4 linked regions of the Homo sapiens genome follow. The protein of the gene in region 1 purifies or fractionates together with the protein of each later gene. This does not show direct contact. Each region holds a gene or a part of one and is shown on either strand. Other genes may lie near its edges. The genes, in order: TLR1, PLXNB2, STK11IP and COLEC12.

Region 1 (7,439 bases):
CCCTCTGTTCTCATACGCCACTGGAATGCTGACCACAAAATGGTGTCTTAGCTAGAGCAGTTTGAATACTGGTACAATAGGCATAACCTAGAACAGTGCCTACCACTGCATGGAGAATAAATACATATTTGATGAATGAATGAAAAAAGTATTCTGAATAAGAGAGAGGAGGAAACAACTCCCTTTCTCAAAACCTCCCAGTGTTCTCCACCCTCTCATCATTTTTGGAATAGAATCCCAACTCCTTGCAATGATCAACAAAGCCTGAGTGATCTTGGCCCTAACTCCTCTCATCTTCCCTAACTCCTTACTAACATTGACCTTCCCGTTCCTTCTCAGACAAGCCAAGCTCAATTCCATCTCAGGTCCTTTATACTTGCCTTTTCTTTTGCCAGAAATGCTGTAGGTTACCCAGATCTTCCCATAGGTTACTCATTCACTTCATTTTGATTTCTACTCTAGTGTCATCATCTCAAAAAGGCCTTCTCTAACTAATCACTCAAAAATAGCCACCCCCAAGCACTGTCTCATACCTACAATTTACCCTGCTTTATTTTTCTCTACAGAACTTATCACTACAGGAACTTGAGTTTAGTCATTCATTTATTTTCTGTCTCCCCACTAGATAAAAACTCCTTGAGAATTCGGACTTTATCTTGTTCACTGCTCTATCTCCAGTTCTTAAAACATGGCCAGTAGGTGATCAATAAATACTGGTTGAATAAATAAATGGATGAATAAATGGATCTTCTGAGAGGCCTTTTATCAGGATCTAATTACCTTTTGAGTAAGACCAAAGTTAGACCCAAACCGTGTATAGGTCATAAAGGGTAATAGAAGAGCAGTCCCAATACCACCATTAGGAACACCTCTTGAGAAAGTCATGGGGAGATGTACGTCAAAGAGTGAAAGTACACCAGTTGAGTCTTAGCTGGAGTTCTAAATAATTTTGGGAAGCTTGGGGCCAGAAAACTTTCTATGAACCCACCTGTATTAGTTTCCTGAGGCTGCTGTAACAGATGATCATAAACGTGGTGGCTTTGCCCTCAACGTTCTGGAGAGCAGAAGTCGAAACTCAAGGTGTCAGCAGGGCCACCATCACTCCAGAGCCTCCTCTAGCTTCTGGCGCCTGTTGATGTTCCTTGCCTTGTAGCTGCTGCACTCCAGTCTCTGCCTCCACTGTCACAAGGCCTTCTCCTCTGTGTCTCAATTGCCTCTTCTCTTGTCTCTTTGTCAAATATCCCTCTGCCTTTCTCTTAAAAAAGCACTTGTCATTGGATTTATGGACCACCTGGATAATTTGGGATGATCTCCTCATCTCAAGATCCTTAACTTTATTATCTCTGCAAAGACCCCTTTTCTAAGGAAGGTAACATTCATGGTTTCTGGGGATTAGGACATGGTTAAGATGTAGACATATCTTTTGGTGAGCCACCATTCAACCTATTACACCATCCATATTAAAACTTATTTGATTAGAGCTGGCATCATTATTTACCAATATATATACTTCTCTAGTTTTAGGCCATGTAACCCAAAAGAATGTAGCCTCCACTTTATAAGTCTGTAACAAAAAAAAGTTTAATGTCAGCCATGACTAATTTCGTGTATTTTAAAAATGTATGTAATGTATTTCATCATTTCATTATTTTTTTTCTAGAATCTGTATCTGTATCAAGATGATCTGAAGAACAGCTTCTACCTTTAGGAATGTCTAGTGTTCCAAAATGACTAGCATCTTCCATTTTGCCATTATCTTCATGTTAATACTTCAGATCAGAATACAATTATCTGAAGAAAGTGAATTTTTAGTTGATAGGTCAAAAAACGGTCTCATCCACGTTCCTAAAGACCTATCCCAGAAAACAACAATCTTAAATATATCGCAAAATTATATATCTGAGCTTTGGACTTCTGACATCTTATCACTGTCAAAACTGAGGATTTTGATAATTTCTCATAATAGAATCCAGTATCTTGATATCAGTGTTTTCAAATTCAACCAGGAATTGGAATACTTGGATTTGTCCCACAACAAGTTGGTGAAGATTTCTTGCCACCCTACTGTGAACCTCAAGCACTTGGACCTGTCATTTAATGCATTTGATGCCCTGCCTATATGCAAAGAGTTTGGCAATATGTCTCAACTAAAATTTCTGGGGTTGAGCACCACACACTTAGAAAAATCTAGTGTGCTGCCAATTGCTCATTTGAATATCAGCAAGGTCTTGCTGGTCTTAGGAGAGACTTATGGGGAAAAAGAAGACCCTGAGGGCCTTCAAGACTTTAACACTGAGAGTCTGCACATTGTGTTCCCCACAAACAAAGAATTCCATTTTATTTTGGATGTGTCAGTCAAGACTGTAGCAAATCTGGAACTATCTAATATCAAATGTGTGCTAGAAGATAACAAATGTTCTTACTTCCTAAGTATTCTGGCGAAACTTCAAACAAATCCAAAGTTATCAAATCTTACCTTAAACAACATTGAAACAACTTGGAATTCTTTCATTAGGATCCTCCAGCTGGTTTGGCATACAACTGTATGGTATTTCTCAATTTCAAACGTGAAGCTACAGGGTCAGCTGGACTTCAGAGATTTTGATTATTCTGGCACTTCCTTGAAGGCCTTGTCTATACACCAAGTTGTCAGCGATGTGTTCGGTTTTCCGCAAAGTTATATCTATGAAATCTTTTCGAATATGAACATCAAAAATTTCACAGTGTCTGGTACACGCATGGTCCACATGCTTTGCCCATCCAAAATTAGCCCGTTCCTGCATTTGGATTTTTCCAATAATCTCTTAACAGACACGGTTTTTGAAAATTGTGGGCACCTTACTGAGTTGGAGACACTTATTTTACAAATGAATCAATTAAAAGAACTTTCAAAAATAGCTGAAATGACTACACAGATGAAGTCTCTGCAACAATTGGATATTAGCCAGAATTCTGTAAGCTATGATGAAAAGAAAGGAGACTGTTCTTGGACTAAAAGTTTATTAAGTTTAAATATGTCTTCAAATATACTTACTGACACTATTTTCAGATGTTTACCTCCCAGGATCAAGGTACTTGATCTTCACAGCAATAAAATAAAGAGCATTCCTAAACAAGTCGTAAAACTGGAAGCTTTGCAAGAACTCAATGTTGCTTTCAATTCTTTAACTGACCTTCCTGGATGTGGCAGCTTTAGCAGCCTTTCTGTATTGATCATTGATCACAATTCAGTTTCCCACCCATCGGCTGATTTCTTCCAGAGCTGCCAGAAGATGAGGTCAATAAAAGCAGGGGACAATCCATTCCAATGTACCTGTGAGCTAGGAGAATTTGTCAAAAATATAGACCAAGTATCAAGTGAAGTGTTAGAGGGCTGGCCTGATTCTTATAAGTGTGACTACCCGGAAAGTTATAGAGGAACCCTACTAAAGGACTTTCACATGTCTGAATTATCCTGCAACATAACTCTGCTGATCGTCACCATCGTTGCCACCATGCTGGTGTTGGCTGTGACTGTGACCTCCCTCTGCAGCTACTTGGATCTGCCCTGGTATCTCAGGATGGTGTGCCAGTGGACCCAGACCCGGCGCAGGGCCAGGAACATACCCTTAGAAGAACTCCAAAGAAATCTCCAGTTTCATGCATTTATTTCATATAGTGGGCACGATTCTTTCTGGGTGAAGAATGAATTATTGCCAAACCTAGAGAAAGAAGGTATGCAGATTTGCCTTCATGAGAGAAACTTTGTTCCTGGCAAGAGCATTGTGGAAAATATCATCACCTGCATTGAGAAGAGTTACAAGTCCATCTTTGTTTTGTCTCCCAACTTTGTCCAGAGTGAATGGTGCCATTATGAACTCTACTTTGCCCATCACAATCTCTTTCATGAAGGATCTAATAGCTTAATCCTGATCTTGCTGGAACCCATTCCGCAGTACTCCATTCCTAGCAGTTATCACAAGCTCAAAAGTCTCATGGCCAGGAGGACTTATTTGGAATGGCCCAAGGAAAAGAGCAAACGTGGCCTTTTTTGGGCTAACTTAAGGGCAGCCATTAATATTAAGCTGACAGAGCAAGCAAAGAAATAGATTACACATCAAGTGAAAAATATTCCTCCTGTTGATATTGCTGCTTTTGGAAGTTCCAACAATGACTTTATTTTGCATCAGCATAGATGTAAACACAATTGTGAGTGTATGATGTAGGTAAAAATATATACCTTCGGGTCGCAGTTCACCATTTATATGTGGTATTAAAAATTAATGAAATGATATAACTTTGATTTAAACAGTTCTGACACATAAGGGATCCACTTGTTTCTTTGCTATAACTGAGTTCTGAATTTATCATGAAGTCAAGGGAAGCACCTGTTTTTCTTCAGTGATGTGTGTTCTAGTGTATCATGGCCAATATTGGAAAATGCCGTGACTTTTGTGAATATAGCTGGGTTTGTATAGCAGATTTCTACAGCTTTTGATGCTTTCCTCATATCCATGGTGCATTCAACTCAACTTATTGATGGCTGCTCGTTGATAAAGCTGGAGACACTATGCCTGAAGGTTCCTCCCCAACCCCCCACCATCATGCCCACACAAAGGGCAGTTCAGAAGTGCTGGAAATTGTCCTTGGAAACAGCCCTCAACCAATGTCAGAAAGAGCTGGTGGATAAATATCCCAACTTTCTCACTCATTTTTTGAGATAAATCAAAAAATGGGGTATACTTTACACTCTCCCTGAGTTCCCCAGTAGGATAAAATTCTGGTTGTCCACAGTAGAAATGGCTTGATTAAGTATTCTCGACTGGCTTCCTTCCCATTTTTTTCTCACTTACTTATTCCTCCATGTGTATTCCATGGGATCACCTCTGTGATAAACTACTTGCCACTGAATATTTGTCTCAGGGGCTGCTTATGAGGGAGCCCAGACCAAGAAAGTGTTCCACCTCAGTCCAAATGAAAATTCTGAGTCTAGTTTTCCATGACTGGAGATCTCGCTGAGATTCTGGTTGTATGAACTAACATGCACAAGAGCCTTTGCTCTTTTGATTAGAAGGAAGAATATAGTTGATATACGGTGCTTCTATATATAGCATCTGTCTCTTTGGGGAACTATTAAAGTAGAGCATGAGCAGATGGGGCAGTGTAAGGAATGGATATATCTGATGCTTTTCATACCCATCAAACATCCTGTCAGTCTACATTTTTACTCCAGCAGCCAGCTCTGGGCAGGTGTAGTCTTGACAAAAACCTTGTCATAACTACACCATGTATCTTTCACTTTATGCCCCATGACTTCACTGATACCACTGCGTGGGATGCTTGTAGAAGCCTGTTCTACCATTCTGATACATGCACAAACCTGGAAGCACAAGGGATAACACTACGGGATGGGAAGCATTATATACATGCTCCTTTCTTCTATTCTTGGGTTAAAAAATGAGGTGTAATTGATACCTTTTCTCAGACAATCCCTAGTGGCACTGAGGTTTACTTACCCACAGGGTAACCAGCTCAGTAACTTGGTTTTGCATTGACTTTCCATTCTTCCTTGGTCACTCTTCTCATTCGGGTCACTCTTGAGTCCTGAGATCGCTGCTCCAAACAAGCGACCTTTCCTTAACTCAAGGAGTCTAGAAAAAATAAATAAAATAAAAAGCAACAAAAACCAAAAAGCCTACAAATGACCAGCCCACAAAGCTCTCATCTCAGTCTCTACTTTTTTGAGTGGGAAGGAACCCAACTAACACATACATATCTATTAGCTTCTTGGCCTAAAGAACTTACAGTCAATCAGAGAACACTAAACATATCCAAATAACTAAAATAAAAATCAATGAAACAAAGCTATAAAATGGAAGTTCAGAGGTTGCTTAAATTGAGTGAAAAAAAATCTTAGAAATGATGTGTCTTTTTTTTTTTTTTTCCATTAGGTCTTGAAGGAAGACTTTAACTTTGGATTTTTCAATGTGTAATGATGAAGAATGGAAAGGCCATTCTAAACAGAAAGATAAAGAGAGCAAAGGCAGGTATACCCAGGCCTATTCTTGGACTGGTATCCCAGTTTGACTGGACCGTGAGGTTCATGAAAAACAACAGTAGGATAGGAGTGTGGAAAGTTATATTAAGACTATATTGTCAAGGATCTTGAAAGTCAAACCACGGAGTTAGAGCTTGAAAATAGAGGAAAGTCATTATTTAAACTTCTTTGAAGCATAATAGTGGGAGGCAAATTCAAACCATGAAATGTATGCTAAAAATAGGAGAACTATTGTTCTGTAATGGAATTGCAAAAATTGTAAGAACTGGATTTTCCCATTTTCTCTAGGATGATTGCACTTTCTGTATTGAACTTCAAGATTTCATAACCAAGTTTCAACTACTCAGCAAGCAGTTATGTATTCGTTTTCAAGGTCTATTTTAACAAAGTCTATTTTAACAAGCTGGGTGGCCTAAACAACTGAAATTTATTCCCATAGTTCTGGAGGCTGAAAGTCCAAAATCAAGGTGTTGGCAGGGTTGGCTGCTTTTGAGAGGAGAGAGGGAAGGATCCATTTCTACTGTGGACAACCCAGTCTCTTTTCTTAACTCATAGATGGCTGTCTTTTCTCTGTCTCTTCACATCGTCTTCCCTCTATGCCTGTCTGTCTCTGTGTCCAAAATTCTTTTTTTTTTTTAATAAGGACACCAATTACATTGGATTAGGGCCCACTCTAATGACCTCATTTTAACTAAGTACATCTCCCAACAACCTTATTTCCAAGGAAGGGGTAATTCTGAGGTTCTGGGGTTCAGGACTTCAACATATGAATTTTCGGAGACACAATTCAACTTGTTACACCCTGTAAATCCGAAAAAGAATTCCCTGAAAGGAACCTAAAGTCACTTAGAGTTTATTTAATAAACTCAAAATTTTTAGACGTTAGATCAGTCCTATACATAAATAGCTGATCTCATAAGTGGTTTTAAGGATGCTGGCGGGAGGTTGAAATTGTATTGGTGGAGTCTCCTGCCAAAGAATTCAAAGTTGGAAGATGAAGAATTCAGGCCAAAGTATGATAAATATCAATGAAAATAAGAGAGATTTCACAGATAAATGAGAGGAAGTATTACAGAATGGGTAAATATGCAAGCCCTTAATCAAGTCTGGGTTTCAATTCTAGCTCCGTCATGTATTTGCAGATGATCTTGGACAAGTTACTTAAACTTTCTAAGCATAGATTTCATTATTTGTAAAATATAGTCTTAGAGTAGCTAGCCAAGACCTTTAGATTTCCAAGTATAAATTAAAAGACTGGTCAAATATGTCTCCCAAACTACAGTTTTCACATAGCGAGCTTTCCAAGTGGTACTGTTGAAGCCCTTTCCCTAGGACCTAGGTCAGAGGGAGCACACCCCACCCATCCTTCTTGAGGGTAAATGAAACTCATAATATACCAAAA
Region 2 (8,566 bases), on another chromosome or scaffold:
GGTGTCCGGGCGCCAGGTAGTTCTCAGAACTTGGTACATGTCAACTTGTCCAGCCCAACTGCAGCCCAGGACAGCCTGTCCCTGTTCCCATTCTACAGACAAGACGCGGAGGCAGCCGGGAGGGTGACCAAGGGGAGCTGTTAAGCCCCAGATGTCTGGTGCAGGGTCCAAGGATGTGACCACATGAAACAGAACACATAGAGGCCGAGGTGGCAAACCTGTTCTGTGGCAGGGACAAGCCGGGGACCCGAGGGTGAGAAAGGTCCTGGCCCCAAATGCAGCTTGGGCCTCCTGACTGTAGCACAGGGGGACCAGCCTCCCCACTGAGGGCTTGGTCTCTAGAGGGTCTGCAGAGATGCTGGCACCTCTTGTGTGGGCAGCTTGAATGCTGACCTCCATAAGATGGGGCCTGGGGGGCCAGTACAGGCCCTGCCATCAGCTGCCCTCCACCAGGGCCCTCTGCAAAAGCCTTATGCTGGTGACCAGCCCCCTGAGGACCACCACTTCAAGGTGTCGGGGCAGCTTGGGAAGACAACCCACCTCTCTCACAACTGTGACCCCACTTTGGGGAGCGCACCCCAAGGACCGTGGCAGCATGTGCTTCCCCACAGCACAGTCTCGCCTCACTTGGCTTTCTGAGGGCTGCCGCACAGCACAGAGGGCTGCAGACCCACATGGCTGCAGGGGAGGGGCTTCAGGCTGGTCTCTGAGGAGCCCCCAGGGACCCTGGCCACTGTGTATCCAGAAATGCACAAGCAGATTTCCCTGGAGGGCTCTGGTGAGGCCACATAGTGGCGTGTGAAGGGGGAACTTGAGGGGGGAACCGGGCTGGGTGGCCAGCATTGCCCTGGGCAGAAGCTAAGGCTAAGGTGGGGGGTAGTGTCCCAGCCCCTCTTCCTCAGGGCCTGTCCCCACCTGTGCAGAAGAGGCCTGGGGTGGAATGTGGCCTGGGGTGGATGGGTGGGGGCTGGGCGTGGAGACCTGCCAGCTCCATCTGTCCGGATGCCTCTTGTGGCCCCCCCAGTGTCAGGGCCGCTCTGAGTTGGCTGAGCCTCTGTCCAGGGCTAGGCCATGGCCCTCCCCGCCCCACGCACTCCAGGCCAGGGGCAGTCAGTGAAGAGGCAGGAAGGTCCAGACAGCTCTACCCCTGGCCAGAGTGCCAGCCCCCGCAGGCAAGAGGGCTTGCTGGGCAGAACTTAGTTGGCGAGGGTGAGGACTGCTGTGGTCACAGGCCTCCCGAAGGACAGGGACCACAGAACCTAGAGGGTGGGAAGGGCTGGGAGCAGGTCTGGAGTGGGGCTCGGGGCTGAGGGTGCACACAGGGGGCCTGCTCAGGGACAGGAAGGACAGCTGCTCACCCTCAAGCTTCCTGCTGGCTATTTAAAGACTCCCTTTTAGTCTAGAACAGTGGCCTTCCCACAGTTTTGGTATTAAAATGTCCTTTTGTGACTGGACCTTGTCTTTTCCTTTTTTGATAAAAAGTTGGCAACCTTGTCAGAACCTGGTAATTTTGGGGTCCTCTGCAGTGAAGGGTAGGGTTGCCGTGATGTGGATTGTGGTTCAAGGCCCAAGGGAAGATTTTGGACAGGAACAAGGCCTGGCTGCTTGAGGGTGGGAGAAGGCAGAGACTGAAAGAACTAAGTCAGGCTGGGGGAGTTTGTCAGGATGTGGCGGGGCGGATCCCGGGTGGGGGAAGCAGAGGAGGAGGGGATGCCTGGCTGGGGACAGGAGGAAGCTGACCAGCTGCAAGGACGGGGCAGGTCTGGGTGGAAGGCGGGCCCCAGGGAGGGGTGACCCAGGGTGGGGGCAAGAGCTTGGGGAATGCTTCTGTCTCCTGCTCAGCACATCCAGTTCCGGGAGGGCAGTGGAGGCGTGCTCCAAGGTCTGGCCCTGCAGACGGTTCACCACCTCTTCTCAAGCCCAGGGGACACTAGGAGCACTGAGGCCAGGACTTGGGACCTGGGATGCCAGAAGTGGGGCCAGCTCTGTCCCAGAAACCAGAACCCCCAGAAAGAGGTCTCGGCCCGCCCACCTCCTGGCCCTGAAGGACCAGGTGGGGTCCCGGGTGCAGCATCCCAAGGTGCTGCTGGAGGCCAGGGATGTGCTGGGAGGCCATCTCCAGGTCCCAGTTTACCCTGGGAGGTTGAGGGCCTGAGACCCCTGGGAAAGGGCCAAAGCCCAGCAGCCCCCACCCCTGAAGGCCGCAGGGGAGCGACTGGTATGCTTCCAGTCTGGGAGTGAGAGTCTGGTGCCCACACATCTCAAGACTGGCAGGGACCCTCACGTTCCTCTGGCCAGGCGAGAGTGCACTCATAATGCCCTCCCCTGGTACCAAGCCATGGCCTCCCCTCAGACCTGCGGGGTTCCTGTGGGGGTGCTCAGGCCATGGGGCCTCTGTGGGCGCTCGTGCTTCCTGGACGGCGGCATGGTGGGCAGGGTGCTGCCCTGGCTGAACCTGGGTCTGAACTGGGGTGCCTGAACCTACCAGACAATGCTGTGGCCGCTGGGCAGGGGAGAAGTGGGGGGCGCGGGGAGCGCAGGCCCAGCCCCTCCCCTCCCGTCCCCTCCCCTCCTCTCCGGTTCTCTTCTGCCCTCTCCTCCCCGCTCCTGCTCCCCCTCCCCTCCCCCTCCCCCTCTTCCCCCTCCCCCTCTCCCCCTCCCCCTCTTCCCCCTCCCCCTCTCCCCCCTCCCCCTCTCCCCCCTCCCCCTCCCCCTCCTTCTCCCCCTCCGCTTTCCCTCTCCCTCTCCCCCCTTCTCCTGTTCTCCCCGCCCTCCCCTCCTCTCCCTCGTCGGGGGCGGGGCCGGCAGCTCCCGCGCGCTCCGGCCCCTCCTCGGCCACACAAAGGCCCCGTCTCCATGGCAGCAGCGCGGGCCAGAGCGCAGCGCCGAGCGCGGCCCGGGCGCCATCGAGCCTTGGCGGCGGACGTGCAGGTACCGAGCTCGGGGGACTGGGCTGCGGGGGACGTCTCGCTGGGCGTGGGGGGGGCTTCGCCGTCAGCGCCGCTCCGCCCGGGCCTGCCGCGCTGGGGCCCGGGGACCTGCGGCGGCTGCGGCTCCGCGGAGGGCTCCCGGGGCCTGGGCCCCGTCCGTCGGTCCATCCGGCGAGGCCCGGGCCGCTGCCGCCCCACTCCCTTCCCGGTGTTGACTCGGGGGACGGGCCCGGCGGCGGGGGCTGCGCGTCCCTCCGGAGCCGCGTCGGATCCCTCCTCCGCGCCTGCCTCTCACTCTTCAGCCGCCGAGCTCCGTGCGCCGAGCGGAGATGGTCTCGCGGTGCGGGCGCTCCGGGCCGGCCCCAGGCTCAGCGGCACAGGAGCCTGGATTTGCCCGAGCTCCCGGGGGCCGTCCCCGCACCCCCTGGGGCCTGCTTGGCGCGGGGGGACCAGGGCGGAGAGCACCCGCACCTGGCGAGACCCCACTGCCTGGGCCTCCTCGCGGTTCCCAGAGTGGCGTCTGGGTGGACACCCCGAGACACAGAAAGTCTCAGAAGCGGGGGCGCGAGCCCTGCCTGTCCCCTGCTGACCCTGCCCCTCCGCACCCTGCTCCTGCAGGAAGCCCCTGCCCTGCCAGCGCCCCTGGTCGGGCTATTCGGCAGATCTGGGGAGCCCGCCTCCCCCTGTCATCTGGGGGTCTCAGAGCCCGGACGCCCTGGGGCTTCCTGCCAGGCCCTTGATTTCTCTTCCCGAAGCTCCCTGGGAAAGGAAGAAAGGGGTCCGTCTGCCCACTGTGGGCTGTGGCAGAGTCAGGACAGGGGGTGAGGGTGAGGGTGAGGGTGAGGGTGAGGGTGAGGGTGAGGGTGAGGGTGGGCCCCAAACCCGGCAGATCCCGGCGGCCTGGAGGGCTCCCTGTGCCCCACCTTCCCTGGACCCCCCCGCCCTCCCCACTTAATGTCTGACTTCGGCCCTTGCTTGGAGGTTCGGCGCAGCCTGTGAGGCTTTAAAGTTGAGCTTCCTCAGGAGCCCTTTGCGGGTGGGAGAGCGAGGCTGCCGGGAAGTGGGGGCTCTCAGCCTGCCCCATGCCCAGATGACCCTGGCACGGAACAGCTGAACAGCTGGTGGGAGGAGCCCTCCCTTTCCTGTCCAGAGGTGAGGGTCTCCCGGAGGGCAGGGCCAGCAGGCATAGGTTTGTGGCGAGTCAGCTTTTTGCATGTTGCATAGAAATCCCCAGAGCCGACTGAGAAGCAAGCAGGTGGGCCTGGCACATCTGAGTCCTCCCACGGTACCTATGGGGGGCCCACCTCTGTCCCGGGGGGTCTGGGAGGCCTGAGGTCTGGCCAGGGGTTCCTTGCCCCAGTAGAGGAGGGAAGTTACTGAGAAAAACAAGGGTTTGGAATGTGAGTCCCCCTCCCCCACCGGCTGCCTGCCAAGAAAGAATTATTTTGGATCATCCAGCCGTGTCCAGTCACCCGAAGCGGGAGGCTGCAGCGTGGGAGAAGGATCCACTTCCGGGACGTGGGTTGAGGGCCCCAGGAGGAGGACGGGCAAGTCCGGGCAGCTCTGCCACTTTCTACTGCAGCTGCCCAGACTGGGCGGGGAGAAGATGCGTCACCTTTGGGTTGGAGAAAGCCCCAAGGTTGGCCCCAGCAGGCCCTGCTGAGCCTGCAGTGGGCCCAAGCCCCTCTGGGGGAGACCATGGAACAGGAGGAGCTCTGGGCCCACCCAGGGACCCCCTCGCCCCACCCAGGGACCCCCTCGCCCCGAGAAGTCTCAATGGTGGTCTGAAGAGCCTCTGAGGTACCCTCCAGGCCCAAGTTCAGGGACACACCCTGTGCCAGTGACCTGTGCGTGCCAGGGAGGAGCAGGCAGGAGCGAGGCTAGGCTGCTAGGGAGGGCACTGGGGTTTCCCTCAGGGGGCCCTCCTGCCCCAACGGACTCCCTATTCAGCTCCTGACTAACGGACCAGCCTCCCTCCAAGCCCCTCCGACAGCCAGTCCTTGCCTACGACCCCCTCTGGATATGGCGCCTGTGAGCCCATCCTGCAGGTGGGGAGACTGAGGCCAGAGATAGGTCTATGTGAGGAGTCATCTGCGATGCTGTGTGGCCAGGGCTGTGGCTACCTGGCGCTCTGGGTCCATGCTGTGTGTGCGCCCGGGGTGTGTGCCCGGCGGCCTGCATGGGGACCACATCGGGGAGGAGGAGCCGGCAGCTGGCCCCAAGTGCAGAAAGCCCAGAGCCTTGGACCCGGCCCAGGGAAGTGGAGCAGAAGAGATTGGATTGGAAGGTGGTGGGGAGGGCCCATATGGCACAGTCCTCCTCCCATCCCAGGACGTCGTCCGTGCTCACCGTGTCCTGCCCCCTGCCTCACCCTGTGCCAGCCACAGCTGATGGTCCCCCTGGGACGCGGGCGTGGGCAGGGGTGCACTGGCTGGGAGAGGCTGTGTCTTCCGGCCCCTCATATTGTGCCTTCTCTGAGCTAGGCAGGCACTTGGATGCCAGGCCTCTGCCACGAGGGCTGCCTTCCCCTGAGCTGGGAGTTCTCACTCAGCTCATGCCTCCGTCCCTCTGGCTGCAGCCTGGCCGCCCTCCTTGGAAGTTGGCGGGGAACCTCTTGTGCCCAGAGCCTGCCTTGGACACGGTTTGGGGATGAGGTGGTGAGCTGCTCAGAATTCACCCAGTGGCCAGCAAGTGGCCCCCCAGCCTTGACCTCCCTTCTCTGAGGCAGATCCAGGTTCTCTGGGGGTGGGAGATTCAGTAGGGCTGGGACTGGCCACAGCCCCTCCCTCCCTCAGGGGTAGTGGCTGTTTGTGTTTGGGGTGGGGCTGTGGGTGGGGTGGGGCTGGGTCTCTGACTAATTACACGATGGGGAGGGTGGGTCAGAGCCTTGGCTGGTGGGGGGTGCTCAGGCTCTGGGGCCCCGGGGAGGCAGCTGCCCTAGCTTCCCTCTTTCTGGTCGAGGTTCCTCCACCTTCTTCCTTTCCGTGGTTTCACATCCCTTGACACAGGGCCTGCTTCTTCCCATACCCCTGGATTGTAAGGACCCCTGCCTTTCTCTGCCTACCAGGGAAGGACCCTGCACTGTTCTGGGCTCCCCCAGCCACAGGTGTGGCCTCAAGCCAGGCCCTGACACAGTGGCCCTCCTGGCTCAGAAGCCTTCTCTCTGAAGACCAAGCGTGTGAAGGGATTGGCTGGGCCCCTCCCGTCTGGCCCTGAACACTGGCACCCCGCACCCCCCCAGTGGATCCACCCTGCCCTGTGAGATTCATGAACCTGTGACAGTGACTGGCCCCAGGCCCAGTGGTGCCGGGGATGGTGGGACAGGCTGCCCCTGGTGGTACTGCAGGTTTGCCCCACCCCCGGGGATGTCTGTCTGGGGAGGAGCCTGGGGCTGGCCTGGCTGTGGAGCTGGGGGTTCTGTTTCGCACAGTCCCGCCTCTGCAGCCCAGATCCTGGAGCCCTTCACACCCAGAGGCCAGCCCACACCGTGGCCCGCTATGGTTGGTGGCCTTCCCTGGGGGTAGCCCCTAAGGCCACACCTGAGCTGCCTCATGTCCCAGGCTAGGTGAGGGAGGAGACTGCCCTGGGCTGGGATCAGGGCGCCTGGGGGCAGGTCCAGCTCTCTTCCTCAGCCCCCTAAGGTCTCCTGGCTTCTGAAAGCCAATAGTTCCTCATTCCAGTGCCAGCTGAGTCCCGGCCCAGGCCTGGGGCAGGAGAGGGAGGTGCTGCCCCAGTTCAGCCACCAGCTCTGCCAGCAGGGTCCCAGCAGCAGCAGCATCAGAGGCAGGGACTGGGCTCCTGGGGGTAGGGCCCCGGCCCCTCTGGCACAGCTGGTCAGCAGCTTCCATGGGGGGCCCTGTGTGGAGACACAGTGTCCAGCACCGATTTCTGGGCCTGATGCTGCCCCAGCTGAGTCCCGCAGCAAGCGCAAGAGAGAGAAGTGCTTGGTGTCCACCTCTGAGAAGGCCTCCTGTGTGAACACGGCCCCCTGAGGGGCCAGGCAAGGGCGTCTGCTCCTGTGGCTGGGACGGTTCCTGCCCACGAGCCTTGTGTAGGGCTGCGGCTCTCTTCCCAGGTGACCTTCTGTTGTGGTCTGGGGCCCCCGAGCCAGCATGCCACCTGCTCAGAGACAGATTGGGCCCCCTGTCAGATTGGCGTCTGGGGGCACTGTCTGCTCCTTCCAGGCAGCTTTGAGGACTTCTCAGAGGAGGAACCCCCCTGCCCTGCTGGTCCAAAGTGGGGTGCTGAAGGCCGAGGCAGTTTCCAGGGGGCTATGCCTCAGGCTGCGTGGGTGGCTGTGGTAGGAGCGTGCTCTGTGATTGTCACTGCATTTGCCTGGGGTCCATGCTCTGTCCTCAGCTGGGGTCTGGCTTTGAACCTAGGTGAGTTCTGGGGCTCTGAGGACAGGCCAGAAGCAGGAGTGTGGGGGGGTCTCTCCTGGGGGAAGCAAGGGAGGCCTGGGCCTGTGTGACTCAGACGTGGTAGGGTGGCATGGGAGCCACAGCTTGGGGGGATGGCGGGGGGCTTGAGGGTAATCCAAGTATTTCAGGGACCCAGCCATGGAGAGTGGGGTTTGAGGACCAGCAGGAGGTGAGGACTCTGTGGATCCCAGCCCTGTCAGGTGTGTTTTCAGAGCTGGGGCCTGCTTTGGAGGAGATGGAGGGCACAGAACACTGCTGAGCCCAGGCCCTGTGCCCAGCCTTGCTCCAGCCTTACCGGCTTGACACCAGGGCCTCCCTCCCACCAGCGAGGGGGAGAAGCTATTTTAAGTGGAGCCAGCAGTTGACAGGGGCAAGGGGCAGGTGGTGGGAGGGAGGTGCTCCAGCATGGCCCCCCCCACTCCCTCTCAGCCTCAGAGATTGGCCAGGGGAGCTGAGGGGCTTGGCCTCCCCACTCCTATGTTGGCACCGAGCCTGATCTGGTGACCACCCTGAGGGACTTCAGGAGAAAAGGATGTTAGGGAGGAGGGCGTGAAGGTGGGGCGCCCCAGGCAGGCCGCCCAGGCCCAGCAAAGCTCGCTGGAGGGTCCCCCAGTTCCACATCTAGACCTGGGGCCCAGTGGCTCTCGACCAGGCCCTGTGGGGTTTGAAGTCCTCAGCTCCACCATGAGCAGAGCAAGCCTCCGCGTGGAGCAAGGGGCTGGACCTGGCCTCCAGGGGCACCCACCTCCCCACACAGCTCCAGCCACGGGCATCACCTCCCACTCACTGTCCTGCCCCCACTCTGAGATGGGCATTTCCTCACTGGGAAATCCCTGTCCCTCTGGCCTCCCAAAGCCCTGAGTGTTTGCCCCTGTGGGGCCCAGCCCACACCCTGGGCTGCCTCACCCTTGGCCTGGACCCAGGTCCTGCCCAACACCCTGTGCCTCACCAGCCCCCAGCTCATCCTGGGCAGACGCAGCCCCTCTCCCCTGCTGAGACGGCCCTGCCCCCACCCCACTTCCCCATGCCACACATGGCCCCTCCCTCGGGGCTCCAGGCAGCGCTGGGTTCTGAGAGCCCCACTGCCCCTCTTAGCCCAAGTGCCCCGGCCTGAGGCTTCTCTCCCAGGCTCTTTGTACTGGGGACGAGTTCTGGGTGTTGGGGTGAGACCCTGTTGGCAGGGCTTTTCCGGCAGCACCCAGCCATGTGTGTCTG
Region 3 (7,920 bases), on another chromosome or scaffold:
TTGCCATACTGTTTCCTGAGGCTCAGTTTTCCTCACAGATTGGCATAGTGATTGTACTTAACATTTGTGGGGATTCGTTTTAATTCATGTATTTAGTACAATGCCTGCAAGTATAGTAACTGCTTACAGTTGGGAGCTATTGTTATTGTAATGATTTCCCTGATGCTTGGCACTGTGCCTGGGCATAATGGAGCCACAGTAGTTGTTGAATACTTGGTTGGCATTAGTTGTGGTAGAAAAAGCCTTGGCTTTGAGATCAGATAGGAGAAGTAACTTCCTACCAATTATATGATCTCCATCAAGATTTTTCACTTTTTTGAACCTCAATTTTCATATCTGTAAGATGGGGTTAATAGTGCTTCTCTTTGAGAGATTCTGAGAAGGTTTGAATGAGATACCAAAGTCATCTGGTACATACTACAGTTAATGTTAGCTGTCCTCCATCACTCCATGCTCCTATTGACGATATCTGTGGAAGCTCTCTTTATAGCAGTTTTCTTTTCTTTCTTTTCTTTTTTTTGAGACAGAGTCTTGCTGTGTCACCCAGGCTGGAGTGCAGTGGCGCAATCTCAGCTCACTGCAACCTCCACCTCCTGGGACGAAGTGATTCTCCTGCCTCAGCCTCCTGAGTAGCTGGGACTACAGGTGTGCACCACCATGACCGGCTAATTTTTGTATTTTTAGTAGAGACGGGGTTTCACCATGTTGGCCAGGTTGGTCTTGAACTCCTGACCTCAAGTGATTAACCTGCCTTGGCCTCCCAAAGTGCTAGGATTAAAGTCGTGAGCCACAGCACCTGGCCAGTAGCAGTTTCATTTCCTGGCTTGTATTGATAACTTTGCAAATGTCTTATATCCTTCTCTGGGAGGAGACAACTAGGAGGCCCTTTGAACGTGGGAAGAGTCCTTGAACCATGTCTGTATCTATCCTCAGTGTCTAGTACATACAGAATCCTTCATGTCAGGTTGTAGGACTTGTTAATTTATTCAGTGATGAATGGTGGGTGTGTGAATGTGTGACTACAAGGAGGTAGCAGGAGAAGAGCTTTGTGGCAGCAGAATAGTTTTGTATCTTGATTGCGTGGCTGCAGGAATTTATATAAACAGCATATAGCTATATATACATATTGTACCAACATCAGTGTCCTGAATTTTTTTTTTTTTTTGAGATGGAGTCTCGCTCTGTCACCCAGGCTGGAGTGCAGTGGTATGATCTCGGCTCACTGCAACCCCTGCCTCCCTCCCAGGTTGAAGTGATTCTTCTGCCTCAGCCTCCCGAGTAGCTGGGACTACAGGCATGCACCACCATGCCCTACTAATTTTTGTATTTTTAGTAGAGACGGGGTTTCACCATATTGGCCAGGCTGGTCTTTAACTCCGGACCTCGTGATCCACCCGCCTTGGCCTCCCAAAGTGCTGGGATTACAGGCGTGAGCCACCACGCCTGCCCTTTGTGTTTTTTTTTTTGTTTTTGTTTTTTTTTTTTTTTTTTTTTGAGATGGAGTCTACCTCTGTCACCCAGGCTGGAGTGCAATGGCTCAATTTCGGCTCACTGCAACCTCTGCCTCCTGGCTTCCAGCTGTTCTCTGGCCTCAGCCCCTCGAGTAGCTGGGATTACAGGCGCATGTCGCAATGCCCAGCTGAGAATATTTGTATTTTTAGTAGAGACGAGGTTAGAGTCGTAGAATAATTTTTTGTGTTTTTAGTGGAGACGGGGTTTCACCATGTTGGCCAGGTTGGTCCTGAACTCCTGACCTCAAGTGCCTTGCTCCCAAAGTGCTGGGATTACAGGCCTGAGCCACGGCAACCAGCTCAGTGTCCTGACTTTGATATTGTACTATAGCTATATAAAATGTAACCATTAGGGAAAACTGGGTAAAGGATACAGGGGACCTTTCTGTATTATTTCTGCAGCATTCTTTGACTCCATACTTATTATATTTTTTAAGCCAAAAAAGCATTCCTTCATGCCTAGCTTGTAGCTGCACTTTTTTAGGTGCAGTGATGAATACCAGAGTGATCAAAAGATGCCCTCAAGGATGAAAGTCTCATTAGAGAGAGCAGTTTTAACAGACAGCAATAACAATGCCTTAGTGCTATAATGAATAGTTATTCTATGACATACTTTTTAGTATTGTTTGAAAGTTTCTACAGATGTGCTTTGCAATCAGAAAAAGAAAGAAAGATAAAACTTCCAATTAACTTTTGTGTAATAATGAGTGACTGCAATATGAAAATTCAGCAGTATTACTTCTTGAGGCGGCTTCCTGGAGGAGGCTGGTCTCAAGCTGGGCGGTGGAAGGGGGTGTCTCATAACAAGAGAGAACTGTGAACCAAGCTGGCTGTATTTCCAGCACTGTCAGTAGATGAGGCTCTTTTGAGCAGAAGGTGAAAGAAAATTTGGAAGAGTTGGTTGGAGTTGTGTAGCCAAGCAGTCTCATCAGGCTGAATGAAATGTTAGGACTTTTTTTGAAGATGAGGGGAGCCATTGAATGCTTTTGAGCTGAGAAGGAGATAGAAAATTTGATCCTGCAATAGAAGATCTACAATATGGATTGGAGTGGGTATATTTTGGCATCATAGAGCCTTAGAATAAAGAGAAAAATCTTTTCACTGTGTCTTCCCTCCTGTTTGCCCCTTTTTCTGCAGGGGATGTGGTCCTGTCTGGCTGTAGCACCCTGAGCCTGCTGACTCCCACACTGCAACAGCTGAACCACGTATTTGAGCTGCACCTGGGGCCATGGGGCCCTGGCCAGACAGGCTTTGTGGCTCTGCCCTCCCATCCTGCCGACTCCCCTGTTATTCTTCAGCTTCAGTTTCTCTTCGATGTGCTGCAGAAAACACTTTCACTCAAGGTTCTGGGTGTGGGGAAGAGGCAGGATGTGCAAGGAGCCCAAGAGAATGATGGAAGTTGGGGATAGGGTAGGGGTGCAGAAGTCTGCAGTGCCAGGATCCAGAGGGTGTCAGAGGTACCAGTGGTTGTGCTAAGGAAGGAATGTTGAGGGCAGGAAGATCTGCTGTGCCTCAGTAAATTGAGTTTTTTTTTTTTTTTCAGCTGGTCCATGTTGCTGGTCCTGGCCCCACAGGGCCCATCAAGATTTTCCCCTTCAAATCCCTTCGGCACCTGGAGGTATGGGGACACGGGGGGATGTTGGTGCACAGCACCCAACTTGAGGCAGCCCCTTGGGGATGGGAAAGAGAAGAGCCTCTTTGGTGAGGAGGCCAGGCCTGAGTATACCCATTGCTCTGCAGTCATGTGATATCCACTGTCTTTCCATTTACTGCTTCCCTAAATCATAGCTGGGCTTTGTGGTCTTCTCCCTCCTCCCAACTAGGGGATGGGGATGAGGTCTTTGTCTTCTGTGGGGTTCTGCCTTCCTCCCTCCTCTTTCCTTGTCCCAGCTCCGAGGTGTTCCCCTCCACTGTCTGCATGGCCTCCGAGGCATCTACTCCCAGCTGGAGACCCTGATTTGCAGCAGGAGCCTCCAGGCATTAGAGGTAAGGAGAGTGAGGGGTGAGCTCAGACACCTCAACTTGAGAGATGTAGAAGACCAAGCTCTGATGTTCTCCCCTCTCTGCAGCTCTCCCTGCCTCCTGCTTCCCTCTAGACAGTGTCCTCACTCCCTCTCTGTGTTCCCGCAGCACTCTGTAACTGCCTGTATATTTATAGTCGTACCTACCATATTATATTACATATTCTAGTGTCTACCTTCCCACTGTCCCTACAGTGAGTTCTTGGGTCAGGGACCTGGGCTTTAAGCCTGTATCTTCAGATGGAGTTCAGTGTATAAAAAATGAATGAGTGACTGGGTGGTAGAGCTTGGCCTTGGCATAGGGAGGAAGGGGAGGGTGGGGTAATGAAGCACCCATCTGTCTGCTCAGGAGCTCCTCTCAGCCTGCGGCGGCGACTTCTGCTCTGCCCTCCCTTGGCTGGCTCTGCTTTCTGCCAACTTCAGCTACAATGCACTGACCGCCTTAGACAGCTCCCTGGTGAGTGCCTCAGAGGGAAGAGGGTTTCGAGGAAGGGCAAGGCCAGGCCTTTGGGGAGGAGGGCCAGCTGGTTGACCAGATAGTATTGTAGTGAACATCGATTCTCTGCCTCCTCCCCGTCTCTCTCAGCGCCTCTTGTCAGCTCTGCGTTTCTTGAACCTAAGCCACAATCAAGTCCAGGACTGTCAGGGATTCCTGATGGTGAGTATGGGCAGTTTGGCAGCTGGCACACCATGGGTCTTTGATTGCTCTGCTCTCACTCTCTCTCCTTGACCAGCTTTTACTCCCACCTTGCTCTTGCCATGAGGGTGGAGCTGCATTCTGGGAGATAGCACTGCTTAGACACTAGCATCAGACAAACCAGAGTTCATATCTCAACTTCTAATACCTGTGCAACTTTGAGCAAGTTAGTTACCTCTTGGTTTCTTTACCTGTAAAGTAGAAATCACAAGAGTACCTGGTTTTTTTTTTTTTTTTTTTTTTTGAGATGGAGTCTCGCTCTGTCACCCAGGCTGGAGTGCAGTGGCGCAATCTCAGCTCACTGCAACCTCTGCCTCCCAGGTTCAAGCAATTCTCCTGCTTCAGCCTCCCAAGTAGCTGGGATTACAGGCACGTGTCAACACACCTGGCTAATTTTTGTATTTTTAGTAGAGATGGGGTTTCACCATGTTGGTCAGGCTGGTCTTGAACTGCTGACCTCAAGCAATTCACCTGCCTTGGCCTCCCAAAATGCTGGGATTACAGGCATGAGCCACCACGCCCGGCTGAATACCTGCTTTTATAGTATTAAAATGATTGTGAAGAAGTACCCAATGTTGCTTAGTCTAGTGCCTAGCTCAGAAACTGGTAGCTTTTGTGATTATGATGAAGAACCTTTCTTCTGGGTCCTCCCATCCACCTGTCAGAGATAAAGCCGAACTAGTTAAAGTGGTAAGGACAGATTTTTTTTTTCTTTTTTTTTTTGAGGCAGAGTCTTGCTCTGTCACCCAGGCTAGAGTGCAGTGGTGTGATCTTGGCTCACTGCAAACTCAACCTCCTGGGTTCAAGCAGTTCTCCTGCCTCAGTCTCCCGAGTAGCTGGGATTACAGGTGCCCGCCACCATGCCCAGCTAATTTTTGTATTTTTTAGTAGAGATGGGGTTTCACCATCTTAGCCAGGCTGGTCTTGAACTCCTGACCTCATGATCCGCCCACCTCAGCCTCCCAAAATGCTGGGATTACAGGTGTGAGCCACCGTGCCCGACCAAGTAAGGACAGATTTTTTATCAGTGATAAACTATTGCAGCGGGGAAGAGGGTGCAACCTGAACTGAACGCCACTTCAATTTGTGCAGAGGTGGCTGGGCATTTTAAAAGGAGAGTGAGGGAATAGGAAGGGGAACTGTGAGGGCTTGAGCAGAGTAAGGGAAGTGGAAATGTACGAAAAGCAGAAGTGGAGGTTGATTCACATGAAGCCCTTCTGGGTTTGCTAAAAGTTAGGCTCCTACCTTCCCACAGAGACTGGGAGATGGGAGCCCTGTCATCAGGTGTTGGCTAGAACAAATGGGAAATTCTTTTGGCAGCCTTGACTTTTCCCAGGCAGGAGCTTAAGGGGGCTAGAGTCACCATTCTAGGGATGCATCCTTGAGATATTAGAACTTTGCTGTTTTTGTTCAGGTTTTTTACTGTGGGGGTTGGAGGAGTCAACAAAAATAATTTGTGTTGAATTTTGTTGAACTTGTGCTGAACAAGTCTGCAGTTCTTAACAGGCCAAAGTTGAGGCCTAGTCAAAAAGAAGGCCCAGAGGAGCCTGAGTAGGGTTTGATCAAGGTGAGAACCTCCTCTAATTCAGGGAAAGAAGAGACACTCCTCTTTCCCCTGAACAATATAAATCCTTTTCTTCCTTGATCACCTTTTGTTCACTAAAAACCAACTGAGCCATTTATTGGGACTTGGTAGTGGATGAATTTTGCTGGATGGTGAGAGTGACCAGGCATTTAATGGGGGACATTTCTATGGAAACAAAAAGGGAAACAAAGATGAATGGTTGGAGCAGACTATAAATCCATTTTCTGAGTCCAGAGGGCAGCCAGTTGAGATTTCTAGGTGTTGAGCTCTATGTTTCTTTAGATGGTGGAATGAGGATAGCAGTGGCAACCGATGGATTTCTTCGTTTGTAGTTTGAATGTTTGTGGTGATAGCATAGACAGTGTTGCAGTCACGGTTATTTCCCTGAACAGAGCCTGGAAGATACAGAAGTGTCAGTGGACTTTTTTCCTTTTTTTTTTTTTAATGAGACAGAGTTTCGCTCTTGTTGCCCAGGCTGGAGTGCAATGGCACGATCTTGGCTCACCGTAACCTCTGCCTCCCGGGTTCAAGCGATTCTCCTGCCTCAGCCTCCCAAGTAGCTGGGATTACAAGTGTGTGCCACCACGCCCAGCTAATTTTTGTATTTTTAGTAGAGACGGGGTTTCACAATGTTGGCCAGGTGAGTCTCGAACTCCTGGCCTCAAGTGATCCCCCCTCTTTGGCCTCCCAGAGTGCTGGGATTACAGGCATGAGCCACTGCACCTGGCCGGCTGGGCATTTTAAAAGAGGGCGGCGGGGAGTGGGCAGGGGAATGGTAGGGCCTTGAGCAGAGCTGGGGGAGTGGAAATCAGGTTGGTCCACATGAAACCCATCTGAGTTTGCTAACTAACTGGCACTTACCAAAATAAGGCCCTTACCCTTTCACAGAGACTGGGAGACGGGGCCCTATCTTCAGGAGTTGGCTGAAACAAATGGGAAATTCTTTTGGCAGCTTTGACTTTTCCCAGGCAGGAATTTAAGGGGCTTGGAGTTGCCATGCTCAGGGTGTGGCCTTGAACTGTTAGGAACAGTGCTGGTGTTGTTCAAGTCTTTTAACGTGGGAGTAGGGGTGGATGAAATCATTTGTGCTGAGTGTGTGCAGTTTTATATAGGCCAAGGTTGAGGCCTAGTCCAGAAGAGGTCTCAGAGGACCCTGGCTAGAGTTTGGTCAACGAGATAATCTTTTTCTCCCCTGTACCCCTGCCAGGATTTGTGTGAGCTCCACCATCTGGACATCTCCTATAATCGCCTGCATTTGGTGCCAAGAATGGGACCCTCAGGGGCTGCTCTGGGGGTCCTGATACTGCGAGGCAATGAGCTTCGGAGCCTGCATGGTGAGTGGGGGTGTGTGATGGGGCAAGCATGGAGGGGAAGGGGGAGAGTGAGGCTGGGGCTGGCCTGGGGACCATGTGCCTCTAGAGCCTTGAGAGGGCTTATGGGGAGTGCAGGGGTGCTCTGGCCGGTCTTTCTGCTGCAACCTCCCCCAGTGCATGCACCACACTCACTTGCGTGTACTCATCCACATGCTCTTCCTTCCTTCTTGCGTCCACCCCAGGCCTAGAGCAGCTGAGGAATCTGCGGCACCTGGATTTGGCATACAACCTGCTGGAAGGACACCGGGAGCTGTCACCACTGTGGCTGCTGGCTGAGCTCCGCAAGGTGAGATGGGAATGCATCAGGGGCCTGGGAACCACCCTTGCACGTACCCCCCCATGCTGGTTTGGTCAGTGCCTTCTTCACACAGGGAGGGCCAGGGCCCCAGGCCCTCCTCATTCTCCCCTTCCTGCCCCTCAGCTCTACCTGGAGGGGAACCCTCTTTGGTTCCACCCTGAGCACCGAGCAGCCACTGCCCAGTACTTGTCACCCCGGGCCAGGGATGCTGCTACTGGCGTGAGTGATCGTCCTGTGTCCACTCTTCTTCCCCTTTCCTGCCCAGTCCTCCCCCACCTTGCACCCTCTTGCCATCCCTGGGTGAGGGGCCAAGGACCTGGACCCTGCTTACTGTGTTCTTAATACCTGGAGCTCAGCAGGATGGGCCTACCACATACTCCCTCCCCCTTTTTGTCTTTGCTCAGTTCCTTCTCGATGGCAAGGTCTTGTCACTGA
Region 4 (7,920 bases), on another chromosome or scaffold:
ATCAAAACTGAACCTAAACCTGTAAACATTCTGTATTTTAGTTCTTAAAAATTAGCTTTGCTAAAAACACATATGCAACATTTTATTCTTGAGAGTTTCCAGGGATTTAGGAGTATGTGTACCTATGAAGCAACCCTAAGGTACAGATTATTAGAACTGCATCTCTCTGTCTATGTAGTAATTTTAAAAATAATAATTACTCAGCGAAATGTCATACTCACTGCCAATGCTCAGGCTTCCCTGGGTTGGTTGGGAAACACGTGTTTGCTTGCCCTGTAGCTCAGCCGGCAGATTGCTACTTATTTAAATAAATCCCTCATTCCTGTAATCCTAGCACTTTGGGAGGCCAAGGTGGGCAGATCATCTGAGGTCAGGAGTTCGAGACCAGCCTGGCCAACATAGAGAAACCCCATCTCTACTAAAAATACAAAAATTGACGAGTTAATGGGTGCAGCACACGAACATGGCACATGTATACGTATGTAACAAACCTGCACGTTGTGCACATGTACCCTAAAACTTAAAGTATAATAAAAATACAAAAATTAGCCGGGCGTGGTAACAGGCTCCTGTAATCCCAGCTACTCGGGAGGCTGAAGCAGGAGAATCACTTGAACCTGGGAGGCGGAGGTTGCAGTCAGCTAAGATCATTCCATTGTACTCCAACCTGGGCAACAAGAGTGAAACTCCGTCTAATAAAAAATTAAATAAATAAATGACATAATAAATATATATTCATTGACTACCTACAAAGTGCCACACACTGAGCTAAGAGGAAGAGATGGAATTGAATGTAAATTTTCCTGCCCTAAAGGATATAATAGTAGATAAGTCATGACAGCACAGTGCAGTGAGTCCCATAATAGAGAAAGGACTACTTGCCAGGGGAATTCTGCAAGGTGCACCTCGGCAAAGGGTTCCCACAGGAAGTGACAAGCAGAGTCTTGAAGAGCAAATAGGACTTAGCTCAGTAAAAAAAAAAAACAGGGAAGAACATTCTAGGTAGAGAGAACACATGGAAAGGCTCGTGTGAGAGAGTGTTTGTCGCAGTGCACACATTTCATTATGACCAGACGGTAGAAGCTTGAGGGAAAACAGTGAGCTTCTCCAGGGACAATTCCAGGATCCAAGGAGCCAGTTCACTTTGGGTCACACAAACACATGGGAACTTACTACTTCTTCCTGAGAGGAGCCAGGAGAATCTCACACAGTCATGCGTGGGTAGAACATGTGATGAATACAATAAATTAGATCCGTTGGCTCATAATTGATATATAAAGCATGTTCTCATTTTTTGAAGTCTTTTTTTTTTTTTTTTTTGAGACAGAGTCTCGCTCTGTTGCCCAGGCTGGAGTGCAATGGCGTGATCTCGGCTCACTGCAACCTCCACTTCCCAGGTTCAAGCAATTCTCCTGGTTCCACCTCCCAGGTTCAAGCAATTCTCCTGCCTCAGCCTCCTAAGTAGCTGAGGTTACAGGCGTGTACCACCACAACCGGCTAATTTTTGTATTTTTAGTAGAGATGGGGTTTCACCATGTTGGCCAGGCTGGTCTTGAACTCCTGAGCTCAAATGATCCACCCACCCCAGCCTCCCAAAGTGTTGGAATTACGGGCGTGAGCCACCATGCCCGGTCTGAAGTCTTTTTTTTTAAGCTATTGATACTAAGAAGGACAGTCAGACTTGATCCCAAGCTGCTAGAAGCTGTATCTCACATAAATCACTTTTGGAGAAACATCCTCTTATTTAACATTTTAGAAACGTGTACTTGAATTCATAACTGTAGAGAATTACTGCCTTCTGAAAATGAATAAGAACTGAAGCTTTTATTTAGTGTGGCTGTATTAGTCCGTTCCCATGCTGCTGATAAAGACATACCCGAGACTGGGAAGAACAAGAGGTTTAACTGGAATTACAGTTCCACATGGCTGGGGAGGCCTCAGAATCATGGTGGGAGGCAAAAGGCACTTCTTACACGGCAGCAGCAAGAGAAAGTGAGAAAGATGAAAAAGTGGAAACCCATCAGATCTCGTGAGACTTATTCACTACCATGAGAACAGTATGGGGGAAACCGCCCCCATGATTCAAATTATCTCCCACTGGGTCCTTCCCACAACACATGTAAATTCTGGGAGATATAATTCAAGATGAGATTTGGGCGAGAATACAGCCAAACTGTATCATTCCACCCCTGGCCCCTGCCAAATCTCATGTCCTCACGTTTCAAAACAAATCATGCCTTCCCAACAGTCCCACAAAGTTTTAACTCATTTCAGCATTAACCCTAAAGTCTGCAGTCCAAAGTCCCATCTGAGACAAGGCAAGTCCCTTCCGCCTATGAGCCTGTAAAATCAAAAGCAAGCTAGTTACTTCCTAGATACAATGAGGGTTACAGGTATTGGGTAAATATAGCCTTTCCAAATGGGAGAAATTGGCCAAAACAGAGGGGTTACAGGCCCCATGCAAGTTCAAAGTCAGCAGGGCAGTCAAATTTTAAAGCTCCACAATTATCTCCTTTGACTCCAGGTCGCACATCCCGGTCATGCTGACGCAAGAGGTGGGTTCCCATGGTCTTGGGCAGCTCCACCCCTGTGGCTTTGCAGGGTACAGCCTCTCTCCCTGCTGCTTTCATGGCTGGTGTTGAGCATCTGTGGCTTTTCCAGGTGAACGGTGCAAACTGTCAGTGGATCTACCCTTCTGGGGTCTGGAGGACGGTGGCCCTCTTCTCACAGCTCCACTAGGCAGTGCCCCAGTAGGGACTCTGTGTGGGGGCTCCGACACCACATTTCCCTTCCACACTGCCCTAGCAGAGGTTCTTCATGCACATCCCACCCGTGCAGCAAACCTCTCCCTGGGTATCCAAGAGTTCCCATACATCCTCTGAAATCCAGGCGGAGGTTCCCAAACCTCAATTATTGATTTCTGTGCACTCACAGGCTCAACAACACATGAAAGCTGCCAAGGCTTGAGACTTGCACCCTCTGAAGCCACGGCCCCAGCTCCACATTGGCCCCTTTCAGCCATGGCTGGAGTGGCTGGGAAGCAGGGCACCAAGTCCCTAGGCTGCACACAGCATGGGGACCCTGGGCCTGGCCCACGAAACCATTTTCTCCTGGGCCTCCAGGCCAGTGATGGAAAGGGCTGCCAGGAAGGCTCTGACATGCCCTGAAGACATTTTCCCCATTGTCTTGGGGGTTAACATTTGGGACGGCAAGAGAAAATTAGAAAGATGCAAAAGTGGAAACCCCTGATAAGACCATCAGATCTTGTGAGACTTATTCACTACCACCAGAACAGTATAGGGGAAACCACCCCCATTATTCAAATTATCTCCCACCAAGTCCCTCCCACAACACATGGGAATTAGGGGAGTATAATTCAAGGTGAGATTTGGGTGGGGACACAGCCAAACCCTATCAGTGGCATTACTTTCCCTATCATATGCAATCAAGAAAATACTACCAAAAAATACTTCTTGGCAAATCATTGTTTGGAAACACCACTCAGGCATCTACTTGAGAACTGACAAACTACAGAATCAGTTGTCACTAACAAAAAGCAGATTTTCAGGGCCTTGTGGTGGAACTCATAACAGAAAGTGGCAGACACTCTTGACTTTGCAACCTTTCTATGCCGATTTTGTGTATAGAATTGAGCTGGGTTTTCCTTGCCAATGGAATCCTCTTCTAGGTAAATGAGTCCCACCTGCCAAGAATGTTAGGGAAGCTGATGAGTGACAACATTTTGTAAATTATCACAGTGTGCCTTGCCTTCATCTATGGAAATTAATATAGGAAATAGCAGATTAGGGACTTCTAAAATGCATGAAAATTTTTAAATTAGTTCCAAATGATTTCTGAAACATCCAAGGCATTACAGAATCATAAGAATAGTTAAGAACATACAATTCTCAACTAAGTAAATTGTACCCCTGGGTTTTGTGACAAGTAAGTTATTTTTCCAAAAAGATGGCTTTTCTTTCCTATATTTGATTTCAGTTACACTGTTTTCGTTCAATCTGTTTCCTTTGTTCCATAATGAAATGATCTCTTGTTTTGAAACTGAAAAATAAAATATGAGCAGATATGTATACTAATGCATCATTTTCCAAATCTTAGTTGTAGAGAAAATGGACAATGTCACAGGTGGCATGGAAACATCTCGCCAAACCTATGATGACAAGCTCACAGCAGTGGAAAGTGACCTGAAAAAATTAGGTAATCTGTGACAAGACTAAACCATGAAATCCCCTGACTCTACATAAATGACCACAGCTTCTTAGAATGATGTTGCTATAAACTCCCCATTCACCCGGAAGGACATTCAATTTTTGTGTTGCATGTTGAGTCTCCCCTCATGATTTAATTCAAATGCTTAAATTTTAAAGTTAAGGGTCAGTTTTGGAATTAAGTCCTGCCAAGAAAACTATTATGTGCCAAATAATATCTGAAGATCAATCCTGACTGAAAAAAAACACAAATACCCTTTATTAAAAACTGTCACATAAATAGGAATTTACTGAGCATTTTTGAAATACTTTAAACTACATAGAATTGTAGAAATTAAGTTATAAAGTGAAAGATCCTAGCATATTCTATTCCTTGATTTTTGCTTTCATTAAAAAAAAATTTGGGAAATTTAAAAGGTTAGTTTCTTCTTGACAGCCTGCCCACTGCCCTAAAATCTAGTAAATTCCCCCTCCCTCTTTGAGAAAAATGTTCAGCCAAGTTTGTCATTCCTAGTTCTGAGCTTCTTTTCCGATTCCCCAGGACCCAGTTTTAATAGATATGTACATTTTACTAATGCAGAGCTGTCCGCTTATACTGCCAATTTTGCATCTAAAATACAGTGCATACCGATTAAGTGTGTTCGGGATCTTTGGCCTTGCCTGAACACTTCTCCATACCACCAATATAAGTCACAGATATTTCTTATTCCAGGTGACCAAACTGGGAAGAAAGCTATCAGCACCAACTCAGAACTCTCCACCTTCAGATCAGACATTCTAGATCTCCGTCAGCAACTTCGTGAGATTACAGAAAAAACCAGCAAGAACAAGGATACGCTGGAGAAGTTACAGGCGAGCGGGGATGCTCTGGTGGACAGGCAGAGTCAATTGAAAGAAACTTTGGAGAATAACTCTTTCCTCATCACCACTGTAAACAAAACCCTCCAGGCGTATAATGGCTATGTCACGAATCTGCAGCAAGATACCAGCGTGCTCCAGGGCAATCTGCAGAACCAAATGTATTCTCATAATGTGGTCATCATGAACCTCAACAACCTGAACCTGACCCAGGTGCAGCAGAGGAACCTCATCACGAATCTGCAGCGGTCTGTGGATGACACAAGCCAGGCTATCCAGCGAATCAAGAACGACTTTCAAAATCTGCAGCAGGTTTTTCTTCAAGCCAAGAAGGACACGGATTGGCTGAAGGAGAAAGTGCAGAGCTTGCAGACGCTGGCTGCCAACAACTCTGCGTTGGCCAAAGCCAACAACGACACCCTGGAGGATATGAACAGCCAGCTCAACTCATTCACAGGTCAGATGGAGAACATCACCACTATCTCTCAAGCCAACGAGCAGAACCTGAAAGACCTGCAGGACTTACACAAAGATGCAGAGAATAGAACAGCCATCAAGTTCAACCAACTGGAGGAACGCTTCCAGCTCTTTGAGACGGATATTGTGAACATCATTAGCAATATCAGTTACACAGCCCACCACCTGCGGACGCTGACCAGCAATCTAAATGAAGTCAGGACCACTTGCACAGATACCCTTACCAAACACACAGATGATCTGACCTCCTTGAATAATACCCTGGCCAACATCCGTTTGGATTCTGTTTCTCTCAGGATGCAACAAGATTTGATGAGGTCGAGGTTAGACACTGAAGTAGCCAACTTATCAGTGATTATGGAAGAAATGAAGCTAGTAGACTCCAAGCATGGTCAGCTCATCAAGAATTTTACAATACTACAAGGTAAGTCAAAATTCTGAATTTGTATTTGTATTAGTTGTTTATTGCTGCATAACAAGTTACTCTAAAACTTGGCAATTTAAAACAATAAATATTCATCATCTCATAGTTTTTGTGGACCAGGAATTCAAGAGCAGCTTAGCTAGATGGTCCTGACTCACTGTTTTTCATGAGGTTGTGTCAAGATCTCAGCCAGAGCTGCAGTCATCTGAAGGCTTGACTGTGGCTGGAGGGTCTGCTACTTAAGTGGCCTGTTCACATAGCTCTTGGCAGGAGGCCTCAGTTCCTTGCTGTGTGAAATTGCTTGAGTGTCCTCACAATGTGGCAGCTGGCTGCTGCCAGAACAAGGAATTCAAGAGAGAGAACAAGAAGGAAGATACCATGACATACTAGCCTCAGAAGCCACACACCATCACATCCACTTCATTCTGTTTCTTAGAAATAAGTCACTAAGTCCAGCCCACACTCAATGCAAGTGGAATTAAGTTCCACATCTTGAAAAGAAGTGTAACTAAGAATCTGTGGACAGTACTTAAAGGGACTCCATTAATTATTTGTTGAGTGAAAGGTTGGTTAATTTGAATTTTCTTGGTCCTTGAGCTATTTCAATGCAATATAAATCAAGCTCCTCTGAAAGCAAGATCAAGTCTTTTGGGTCACAAAGCTACCATTAAGGGAGTTACATGTCATGAGTAGATGAATGGTTGGCCATCACAGTAACACAGAGGTCACAGTAAGGTCACAGAGGAAGGAAACGATGTGTCTTGCTTATAAAATCTGAGTTTTGGTAGGTGTGCTGGCTCATGCCTGTAATCTTAACACTTTCGGAGGCTGAGGTGGGAGGATCGCTTGAGACCAGGAGTTTGAGACCAGCCTGGGCAACATAGCAATATCCCATCTCCTAAATAAACAAATAAATGAATGAATACATACGTATAATCTGAATTTTACTGTTATCCAGATCATCCATATAAATTAAAAGTCCTTGACTCAGACTAAGTCCACAGTTGAAGAATTGTAGCATCATATATTAACAGTATTTTCCAGTCACAAACTATTTTCACAGGTTTTAAGTTGAAAGTACTGGTGGAAGATGCTGTGCTCAGCAGTCTGGGGTATACAAATGAAACCAACGGTCCTCACCCTTAGGGAGTTTAACATAAAGAGAATTTCAGGGCATCAGAAGATGGGCTGTAAGCAAACATTCAAGGGGAAGGGATTACACAAGGGCCTGAGTCACTAGGGGCCACCTTGGGGTATGTCCCCCACACTGGTCTAATAATCAAGGGTAAAGAGTGGTAGTTAATAAGCCCCTGTGAGGCTGAAGGCAGATCCGGATAGCAGATGGCAGGACTCTGTTCAATAGCTTTGTCAGTGACTAGCATGGATGACCTGCTAAAGCAATGCTTGTGTGACTTGAAACTGTATATGCCAGCCAGTGGCTGATAGACTCATAATCCACAATGATCTAGAGAGGCCAGGATAGTATCAAGATGTCAATCAAATGAAGTAGATAGGAATACATGTAAAATCCTGCTCATAAATGGATGAGACAAAACAGATAAATGTTGATGGGAAGGCATGGCTGGAAGGAAGTGTGCATGAAGCATGGGGATTTTAGTTGACTGGAAGCAGTGAAATATGTCTTCCAGGGAAGGGAATGTGTTCCTTGACTGTGGACTGTGTTAAGAAAAAGGGAAGTAACATCTGACTCTGTTCAGTATGCCAAGACCACCTCTGGAAGATAATGTTTACTTTGAGTAGCCCCTTTCAAAAGAGACATTCCCAGACCAGCATGCTCAGAAAAGCAACATCAGAATGATAGGGGCTAGAAACCACGTACTGTGAGGAAGGGTTGAGGACCTGGGAGCTTTCACCCCTAGGAGAGCCTGTTCAGTGGAGAACAAGACAGCCATCTGCACTTATTTAAAGTTGCTC

What was found.
Region 2: the proteins of TLR1 (region 1) and PLXNB2 purify together in Homo sapiens (affinity purification with mass spectrometry, with the first as the bait; one large-scale study listed by BioGRID). This does not show direct contact.
Region 3: the proteins of TLR1 (region 1) and STK11IP purify together in Homo sapiens (affinity purification with mass spectrometry; one large-scale study listed by BioGRID and IntAct). This does not show direct contact.
Region 4: the proteins of TLR1 (region 1) and COLEC12 purify together in Homo sapiens (affinity purification with mass spectrometry; one large-scale study listed by BioGRID and IntAct). This does not show direct contact.

What each region holds. Positions count from the first base shown.
Region 1 is NC_000004.12:38,793,120-38,800,558, reverse strand, and holds the end of TLR1 (toll-like receptor 1 precursor), read left to right. Parts: intron 1-1,660; 5' UTR 1,661-1,727; coding exon 1,728-4,088; 3' UTR 4,089-4,304; downstream 4,305-7,439. UniProt on the Homo sapiens protein: Participates in the innate immune response to microbial agents. Specifically recognizes diacylated and triacylated lipopeptides. Cooperates with TLR2 to mediate the innate immune response to bacterial lipoproteins or lipopeptides.
Region 2 is NC_000022.11:50,301,918-50,310,483, reverse strand, and holds the start of PLXNB2 (plexin-B2 isoform 3 precursor), read left to right. Parts: upstream 1-2,837; 5' UTR 2,838-2,931; intron 2,932-6,662; exon of another isoform or gene 6,663-7,005; intron 7,006-8,566.
Region 3 is NC_000002.12:219,598,587-219,606,506, forward strand, and holds part of STK11IP (serine/threonine-protein kinase 11-interacting protein), read left to right. Parts: intron 1-2,648; coding exon 2,649-2,854; intron 2,855-3,054; coding exon 3,055-3,129; intron 3,130-3,401; coding exon 3,402-3,497; intron 3,498-3,881; coding exon 3,882-3,989; intron 3,990-4,118; coding exon 4,119-4,190; intron 4,191-7,021; coding exon 7,022-7,148; intron 7,149-7,369; coding exon 7,370-7,473; intron 7,474-7,608; coding exon 7,609-7,704; intron 7,705-7,889; coding exon 7,890-7,920. UniProt on the Homo sapiens protein: May regulate STK11/LKB1 function by controlling its subcellular localization.
Region 4 is NC_000018.10:344,360-352,279, reverse strand, and holds part of COLEC12 (collectin-12), read left to right. Parts: intron 1-4,116; coding exon 4,117-4,215; intron 4,216-4,938; coding exon 4,939-5,985; intron 5,986-7,920. UniProt on the Homo sapiens protein: Scavenger receptor that displays several functions associated with host defense. Promotes binding and phagocytosis of Gram-positive, Gram-negative bacteria and yeast.